Linked DNA regions of Homo sapiens. The protein of the gene in region 1 interacts with the protein of each later gene in a biochemical or structural test. Each region holds a gene or a part of one and is shown in the gene's direction. Other genes may lie near its edges.

The links. Proteins that work in one complex are often made in the same cells at the same time.
Region 2: the proteins of BAMBI (region 1) and ACVR1 form a complex in vitro, tested with the Homo sapiens proteins (one study listed by BioGRID).

The regions. Positions count from the first base shown.
Region 1 is NC_000010.11:28,680,487-28,683,437, forward strand, and holds the end of BAMBI (BMP and activin membrane-bound inhibitor homolog precursor), read left to right. Parts: intron 1-771; coding exon 772-1,059; intron 1,060-1,496; coding exon 1,497-1,915; 3' UTR 1,916-2,446; downstream 2,447-2,951. UniProt on the Homo sapiens protein: Negatively regulates TGF-beta signaling.
Region 2 is NC_000002.12:157,866,331-157,873,369, reverse strand, and holds part of ACVR1 (activin receptor type-1 precursor), read left to right. Parts: intron 1-7,039. UniProt on the Homo sapiens protein: Bone morphogenetic protein (BMP) type I receptor that is involved in a wide variety of biological processes, including bone, heart, cartilage, nervous, and reproductive system development and regulation.

The DNA.
Region 1 (2,951 bases):
CGAATTACATGTAAAACTTGTGAGGAGGAGGAGGAGAAGTTAGCCTTGCAGTTTTATACTCCCCCCACCTTTTATGACTTTCCATTTGGGCTGAAAGAAATTGACTTTGGCAAGCAAACCACTAATTGTAAACTGCCTAGTTCCTGTTTTACAATATACTGACTAAAAGCTCCTCTGCATGAAAAGATCTTTATAGGCAAAAAGTTTGCCTTTTCTAGAGAGGTTGCAAATAGCTGCCTAGTTTCATAGTTTTAAAACCTCCTGACCTGGGCAGTTTCTAGATTGTTGTGTTTCTAGTTAATAACTTTATAAGGTGTTAGCTAAAGCTCTTAACTCTTGGTGCAGTCCTGTGGGATAGTAAACAATTCAGTAGTTCCGATCAAATATTTATACTGACAAAATCAAAAAGCCTAACATTTTTATGTTGTATGGTCATGTAGGATTAAAATGAATAAATAATGTGTTATACCTTATGGTAGGAGAAATTATACTCATTACTATTTCCTTCAAAAAGCAAAAGTTTTTTTAAAATGACTCTAAACTCCTCAGAAACCTGCTATTGGGATTACTACATTGCCAAAATGACGTTTAACTGGATTGAAACTTACGCACTGGCTGCAGGAAGGGCTTCTCCAGGCTCTGTAGACTGGAGCCCTCAGCTTGGATGATCTAAAAGTTCATGCCTTTGAATTTGGGATTTAGCAGTTGCCTAAATAGTTGCTTTATCTGGTCTCTGGAGCAGAGTTTGAGGTGGTTTCTCATTGTTTTCAGGTGAAATTCGATGCTACTGTGATGCTGCCCACTGTGTAGCCACTGGTTATATGTGTAAATCTGAGCTCAGCGCCTGCTTCTCTAGACTTCTTGATCCTCAGAACTCAAATTCCCCACTCACCCATGGCTGCCTGGACTCTCTTGCAAGCACGACAGACATCTGCCAAGCCAAACAGGCCCGAAACCACTCTGGCACCACCATACCCACATTGGAATGCTGTCATGAAGACATGTGCAATTACAGAGGGCTGCACGATGTTCTCTCTCCTCCCAGGGGTGAGGCCTCAGGTAGGTGGAAGCCGTTTCTAACCAGAATGCCTGCCTGATCTATAGACTTGTGACAGCCACGACTTTGTATGTCTGCTATTGATTTTGTTGTTAATGTAATTAGAGACACCAGAGGGAGAAGCCTGGCTGGATGCAAAGATGCATCTTGATTGAGTGGCTTTTATGTCTGAGCATTAGATGTCTGTCTACATAATAGGTTTTGCCTGTTTTTTCAACATTTTGAAGACATTAAAAGGCCATTACATCTCAGTAATGACAGTCTGTAAACAAATGCGTTTGTAAGCTTCTTCAGATAGTTTTGCAATGTTTTCTAAATATCGTTGATTTAATTGTAAGCTTCTTTTTAATGGAATTCTTGGTTAAAATGAATTGATGATTATGAATATCCCTAGGAGGAGTTAGCATGGAGTTTGATCATTTTCTTTGTACTCCTTTAGGACAAGGAAACAGGTATCAGCATGATGGTAGCAGAAACCTTATCACCAAGGTGCAGGAGCTGACTTCTTCCAAAGAGTTGTGGTTCCGGGCAGCGGTCATTGCCGTGCCCATTGCTGGAGGGCTGATTTTAGTGTTGCTTATTATGTTGGCCCTGAGGATGCTTCGAAGTGAAAATAAGAGGCTGCAGGATCAGCGGCAACAGATGCTCTCCCGTTTGCACTACAGCTTTCACGGACACCATTCCAAAAAGGGGCAGGTTGCAAAGTTAGACTTGGAATGCATGGTGCCGGTCAGTGGGCACGAGAACTGCTGTCTGACCTGTGATAAAATGAGACAAGCAGACCTCAGCAACGATAAGATCCTCTCGCTTGTTCACTGGGGCATGTACAGTGGGCACGGGAAGCTGGAATTCGTATGACGGAGTCTTATCTGAACTACACTTACTGAACAGCTTGAAGGCCTTTTGAGTTCTGCTGGACAGGAGCACTTTATCTGAAGACAAACTCATTTAATCATCTTTGAGAGACAAAATGACCTCTGCAAACAGAATCTTGGATATTTCTTCTGAAGGATTATTTGCACAGACTTAAATACAGTTAAATGTGTTATTTGCTTTTAAAATTATAAAAAGCAAAGAGAAGACTTTGTACACACTGTCACCAGGGTTATTTGCATCCAAGGGAGCTGGAATTGAGTACCTAAATAAACAAAAATGTGCCCTATGTAAGCTTCTACATCTTGATTTATTGTAAAGATTTAAAAGAAATATATATATTTTGTCTGAAATTTAATAGTGTCTTTCATAAATTTAACTGGGAAACGTGAGACAGTACATGTTAATTATACAAATGGCCATTTGCTGTTAATAATTTGTTCTCAACTCTAGGATGTGGCTTGGTTTTTTTTTTTCTCTTTTCTTTTTTAAACAAGACCAAGATCTTGCTTATTCTTCCATGTGCCTGTGTAATTTTCTTACAGTGTGGAGTTTCTAAATGTATACTGACCATCTTTTAGTGTCTTACCCACATTCTGGCTATAGGATAACTCTGGTTTTAGCTTTCATCTAAGAAGGAGATCTGGAATTTATGTGTACCAGGTCAGATATGATTGATCAATTTCTGGAGTTGACCTAGCAAAGGTCATTTTGATCCAGGTGTTCCGGAATACCTTTTCCAATGTGTATACCTCCACCCAAAAAAGAAAAAAAAACCAACTAAACAACTGTTTTTTTGTTCAAGTCAGTCACTGTCTCCTTTTACTGTTGATTAATTGGCCAGTTTATTTTGTCCTAAGCCAAATTAAGTATTTTGGCTCCCCAATTAGCCAAACCTTACTGTACAACACACTTAATTTTAAACCTTGTGCTTCAACAGTGTGATGCTTTTTTTTTTTTTAATACTTAGAAAGCTTTTCTGTAGTGAACACGATACACCAATTGATTTAAATAACTGCTA
Region 2 (7,039 bases), on another chromosome or scaffold:
GCTCAGCTCTTCACAGGTACTTTTTCATGACATTTCCACAAACACCATATGTCTTATTATTATTTTACCGTCCTACAATAAGAAATTGAGGCTTGGCAAATTTCAGTGGTAGAATGGGGATTTGAACCAGAGGTCTGCAGGACTTCAGAACTCATGTTCTTGGCCACTTTTGCCAGTGATTGTCAAAGTTCATTCACTCACATACTGTCTTCCTGAGTTTACCATGGCTGAGTCCCACTTACTCTATTAATATTTTTCTTTAAAGCAATGATTCACTTAAAGAAAAGAACCTAAAGACATCATTTTTTTGAGAGGAAATTATGTATTACTACCATATTTGGAAAGCCAACTCACTTGTTAGGAATAGGAGGTAGTCATAAATATGCGTTTGTACTTGCACCGAAACCCCAACTTCAGAATAATGATTATGTGGAGTGTGTGTATGTTGCAGGGACCTGGAATAAAAATGGAGGAAGTAGGTAGATGATACAGTGTTGGTGATGTTCTGGTTTTTGGATTGGGTGATGGGTTCATAGGTGCTGATTTTATTTTTAGACTTTATAACCTACATACACAATACATTTTTTCTAAAATGATAAAGAAAATTAAACACATAACCATTAACATAATGATTACTTAGGGAATATTTTACTGCACTATGCTGACTATAGATTTAGCTTGGTGCCTTGTTTGCAGTGGGCACACAGTAACTACTGGCTGATCGATAAGACCCCAGGAAATAATTGTAAAGCAAGCTCATTGTTTGTTATATTTGAATAAGGTTGAGGTATGTCCCCCTCCTCCCCTATTTTCTCCTGCTTCTACTCTCCTTTCCAATATTGCAACTAAATAGTGTGGGCTGCAGTGAGGTTTCACCTGGCTGTAGTTATGGGAGACACAGGCTGGGCTGAAGCTAGCACTTTTCAGCATCACCTTGTCTTATATATCTAGCACTTGGGATGGGGCAAAGAATACTGTCATGAAGTGTTAAGACACCTTCCTTTTTACCCAGTAGTAAGGTGTGACCATTCAGAGCTGGAAGCAGTATTTAAGTTAAAGCAGGGCCTGGATGAAATGTTAACAACATTAAACTGGTGAGGCTGGGAAATAAAGCCATCAGAAATTTTAATTGGAATCCGCAGAATCTCCTGTTTTATTTTCCCAAGCAAGCACCGGGCACTGTGGCTTTATTCCTGGAAATGAGGATTTGGAATTGGGTTTCCTGGTACAAAATACCTTCTTTGATCTTTTGGAGTGAAAACTTTGTGTTTCTTTCTGTGGCCAATTCCAGCTCTCAGAAGAACCAAATGGAAGATTTACCTCCTCATTTTTAGCAGTTGGCCATAGAATGCTCTTGCTTGCCATGTTAAGTTTAAGAATCAGAAGTTCTAAACTAGGGTTTGTCTGTTGGAAGGACATTCAAATGAAAGACTCCTTTTGAAAGAGCCTCATCAGTTTGGTGTGGTTGGCACATCACAGCCTTTGGTTCAGATGGGAGGTAGTTTTGCTTGAACTCACACTCTCAAAATTAACTAATAAGATATTCGGCAGCTTCCTTTTCTGAGTTAACACAAATACACCCTCTGCCCCTAATATTCAAACTAACCACACATTCGAATACTATTCCTGTGCGCTTCTAGGCAGTTCTGGAAATGTGAGATTGTTTATATGTATAAAGGCTCTTATGTGATCCATCAGAGCTTTGTTTTCCAGAGCCACGGCTATTCAGTTGTTTGATTTTTGGGTTTCACTCTCTGACCAACATTCCACTTTGCCCATTAGAGTTACTTCATTGTTGACTCTGGGTATTTGGCCTTTATTTCTGTGACTGGGAAAGTAACTTTAAATTTCAGTCTTCCTAAATTTTGTGGAGGTTTGTGCAGTAGGTGAAAGTTGTTTTGAAGAGGGGGATGGGGTGAGACCACTTTTAGCATAAGTGTCCTGAGGGATCACCCAAGGTCAGTTCTCATTCATCTTGAGGCCAAACCCTGGCTGTTCTGGTCTCTGCATTGCCCCTCACTCCCCTCCTTTTTGGGGGACCCAGATTCTTCAAGGCTCAGAGTAATCTTACTGCAAGCAAGAATGCTTTCTGGATTTTGCCATTTTGCCTTTCGACAGTCTCCTAGGTTTTATCATCCCCATTTCTTATTCTGGGATGTGATTGATCTCTTTGAGGGCAAGGACTTCAAGTTGTTCATTCCTCCATTGATTCTTTCTACACAAGTCATTGCTCTTCACCAACTTAAAACCTTTCAAATTCTCTCCCTGGGCTCCTTGAGGCAAGGGACTGTCTTATTCATCTTTTGTGTAACTTTTGCACCTAACACAATGCCTGGCCTAGACCACACAGTCAATAAATTGTTTTTGAATTGCCGAGAGAATGAATGGATGATTGCATATTAAGGGAGCAAAGGGACCTAGTCTTCTAGGGAACCAGGGAGATTGCTGACAAGATGATACCAGTCACTGTGGTCCGTAAGGATGAGTTTGGAAAGTGGGGACGAAAGACATTCTATGTAGAAGGAACTGCTTTTGATACCTCTTCTCAGTGCTTAATGTTGTAACCTGTGCTTAGTCAATTCCACAAACATTTATTGTGTTCTTTTCAGCATATGTTTCTTTCTTTCTTTTTATATTTAAGAGTGATGCTTCCATTTTTGAGAAGAATATCTCACTAATTTTTTATATCCCACAGAGCAGGGAATCCTTCATTATTTATAGTTAGGACCCAGACACTCAGTGAATCAATTACTTTACTCTTGACTTTTTCCTGTTGCATATGTTTCCAAACAGTTGACAGTGAAAACGTAGTGGTGGGCCATGCTTATGTGAGAGGTGGAAAAATGTAGGTGACCTCTTTGGAAAATGGGTGGAATCCAAAGTAAACTCCTCTTTTGAGAGATTTTTAAGGGCTGAAATCAGTGGACATACCACATATAACTTTTCATCTTGAATACTTGATGGGTGTGTGCTTTTGCTCATCTATGAAAGCCAAGATTGGCTATTAATATCACCATGCCATCGAAAAGCAAGATTACTTTGATTTGGGGGATTCCGTTTTAGCCAGTTCTGGAAGAATATTGATAGGCCCTCCAAAATATAACCTTGAACTTTAGAAATGTACAGAGGGGAGAACGAAGGTGGGGTGATCTTGGGCAAAGTTGGATATTAGAAATGGGACGATACTTGAGAGTTTGGAACGTGGGTACTGAGGAAAATGTGCAATAAGAAGAACTTGAGAAAAAGCATTCTGGAATAGAAGGGATGGGTTGAGTGATGTTTTAAACCAAGTTCCGAAACTTCCACTATTGCAGCTATTGATGAGTGTTGGCTACGCTTGGGGTGAAAGTAAGATGTGCTTGATTTACTCTCTGTAAGTAGTGAGTTAATGCATATAAGCAAACATGACCATAAAGGCAGGAGCTTAGGGATGAATATCCCTTGTCTTGATGTCAGGGACTTACACAAGATAGAAATATGCATAGGAGTGAAAGTGTAGGTGGTTATCTAGAGTGACACCTTCCTTTTCAGGAGTAAGGGACACATGTGCCCAGTGCTATTTTTCATACAGTTTTCATATGCTTATCTTGAACTTGAAGAACCCAAGTTGTTGTGAACAATAGGTGGCAAGAACAAATATATTATGAGGATGGCCTAGTAAAAAACAGAAAAGCTCAGTCAGCAGAGATTACTTTATATAAACATAAATGTTCTATTTCAGTATTTTTAAAACATTTTAACACTCAGCAGTACATTTTATATCATGACCTGGTACACACACAAACACATATGCATGTGCACAGGTGTTAAAAATAAAGCTGAATTACAAGTTCTACAAAAATATTATAATGCTTTTTAATTAATATTCAATTTTTATTTTAAAAATTCTAGTCTTTATATACTAAACTGATTTTACAACTTGCTAATGGGTCCTAATAAGCAGTTAGAGAAAAAACTGTTCTAGGTATTGTGGAAATTAGCCTTAGTTTGTTTATTGAATAGTTGCTAGTCTGGATGAGACTTTCGTTTTCTTTTTGTGTGGATTTCTGTCATTCTATAGAAAGTTCTTACCCCTATGCCCCTCTCCCTTGCCAGATTATTTTTTCTGTGTATTGTTTCCAAATCAGATTAAAGTGAGTAATACGTGATTTGGACCAGCTCCAGTGTGCATCATCATCATCATCTTGATCCCCATCAGCATCAAAGGTGGGGCTGATTCATTTAGAATGGTGGCAGGAGCCACTTAACTCCCTGTTTATTTAGATTATACTTGAAGAGGTTGTTGACTTTCAGGAATAAGGGGAAGCTGAGGTTACACACACCCAAAGGATGAGAGGGAGGTGGGGAAGATGACCCCCATATATTGTTCAGAAATAAAAAATGAAAGCATGTGGTTAGTAGGGACAGCTCTTTGCATTCAAAGACACAAGAGCTTAATTGTTGTCATTGTCCTTATCATTAAAATCTTGCTTTCCTCTTCCTTCATCTTTTCCCGTCTTCTTTGTCCCTTATTTATTGAGCATTTATCAAGTCTTCCTCTAGGTAAGGTTGGGCATAGAAAGCTCAGTTATTGTCAAGTTAATATTAAGGTGCACTTGAGTAAGGGAGTGAATAATTATACATGTAACTATTAGTGGCAGAACTCTGAATATCTTGGTCACAAGTTACAGAGGATCAACCAACACCTTTAAGGAGGTGGCTGTTTGGCTGGCCTCTGAAAGAGGTACCAATTGGATGTTATTTTGAGAGGTATCTGTATGTGTATAGGTTGTAGCATAGGCAACATTCCAAAAAGAGAGAATGGGGCAAGTAAATATAAGGGGCTTGTTTTTTATTTAGAGGCCAAGTTATAGAAAAGATAGTTGCAGATTTTTTTTTTTTTTTTGAGATGGAGTCTCGCACTGTCACCTGGGCTGGAGTGCCGTGGCGCGATCTCGGCTCACTGCAACTTCCACCTTGGGTTGAAGCGATTCTCCTGCCTCAGCCTCCCGAGTAGCTGGGATTACAGGCACTCACCACCATGCCCAGCTATTTTTTTTTTTCATTTTTAGTAGAGATGGGGTTTCACCATGTTGGCCAGGCTGGTCTTGAAGTCCTGACCTCGTGATTCACCCACCTCGGCCTCCCAGAGTGCTGGGATTACAGGCGCTAGCCACCGTGCCTGGCAGTTGCACATATTTTTAATCACTAGTCTCAGACTATGTGTCCTGGGATGCAGCTTCTCAGGGTGGCATGCGAGACCTTAGACAACCGAAAGGAACAGCACATTCACAGTTAAAAGTGCTTTGTGATGTGACTTGACTCTGTAGAGCACATCAAGATGAGCACCATAGGAGCAAGCTTAGAAAGGGAGATTTAGAGGCACATTATGGCTTACTTTGAATGACAGGCTGGAAGTTAAGGCATGAAAGCAGGCCTTGGTCTGGCCCCTTTCATTATCTCATTTAATGCTCACTCACACTCCATGAAGTACCTGCTCTAATGCCCATTTTATAGAAGGAGAAACTGAGGCATAGAGAGGTGATATGAATGTCTAAGGTTACACATCTGAACTTTAACTCAGGCTGTAAATTCCCACATCACCATCAGTGCACCAGAGCAGAGGTTGAAAACTGGTGGTCTCTGAGCTCAGTATACCTCAGAGTTCTGTCCTGTTTGATACTGTATTTAAAACATTAAAAAAAAAAAAACATGGTTGCTAACATGTAAAAATGGGGGACATTTTCATAAAAAAAAAATCGAAATGTCCAGCTGCTCCTGCAACACTGAAAACTCTGGCAGCCCCAGGGCCATATTCCTTCCTGCAAGAAACTGCCAGATCTTTTGACCATGTCTGTCTGAGGGAGATGTGTGTGCTGTGGCTGCTACTGTCTCAGTTCATCCTGTTTTCTCCCAGACACTGAGGCTCGGTGTTAGTTGCTGTTTATTGTTCTTGCACTGACAGGTTTGTTTGTTTGTTCCTGTAGGCTAACTGGATTGACCCTATAGGTGTATGAGTTTGAGGCCTTGGCACATAGCCTTCTGTTAGCCAAGGATGATTGGTCTAGTGGAGTGGGATGCCCAGAAGCCAGGAGGAAATGAGAATAGATGGAACTAGGGTTTTAGCCTTGGGCTGGAGAAGCCATAGGGCTTGGTGAATAAATTACTTTTGCAATGAGAGGGAGGGTAGGGGTTGGGCAAACATATGTGACTTTTGGAACCTGGATGACTGGGAGAATGGTGTTGCTCTTAAAAGAAAATGGAAGGTTGCCAAGAGCACCTGGGTTGGAATGGATTGTGGCGTTGGGTTTGAGGTTCTGGGAGAGCAAGAACCCAGAAGAATGCTTACTTGAGCCCTGTGAGAAGCTGGGAAAATGGAACTGAAACTCTGGAGATAGGGTTTGGGGCTTTGGCTTTGTATTGGCTATTGGATTTGTACTGGTGATTGGTGAGAGGATGAGAATGTCCTGGGGGAGAGCTTCCTTTTGGAAATGGGAAGAAGTGGGTTGAGGTCTGAATGATAAAATGAACCAGCTACAAACAGTTCAAAGTCTGTTATTGACTTTTTGGGGTCAAGTGCCATATCTTGCAAATAAATCAAATGTTTATCCGAATAGAGGAGTAAAATAACAGTCTCCAACTTTTGAACATGGGAAACTGATAAAACATCTGCTCATAGAATCAAAGGCAGACATGCTGTTTGATGGGTGACACCTGTATCTTATGTCTGTGCCTATTTCACTGAGCCTTATTAAGGTAAAACTGATTCTAATAGTGACCTTTTCTTGGTATCATAGATGATATAAAATGTGAAAAAGAAGTTGCCGGAGCTCCAAGATGGGGAAAAAAATGCCAGAGGAAAATGCTCTCTGCTTGAGATTTATCCTTGCTTTTAACCAGTTTAGAATGGAATGTCCTTTTCAAATTCAGAGAAGCTTTCCCCCCCGCCTCCCTTGGCTTGTTTGCTTAGGATTCCCTCCAACTTATTGTTTCTTAATCAGCTGTGTCCACCTCAGCTCCTCTCTCTTCTCCTACTTGGTTCCCTTTTGATCCCTAAAAG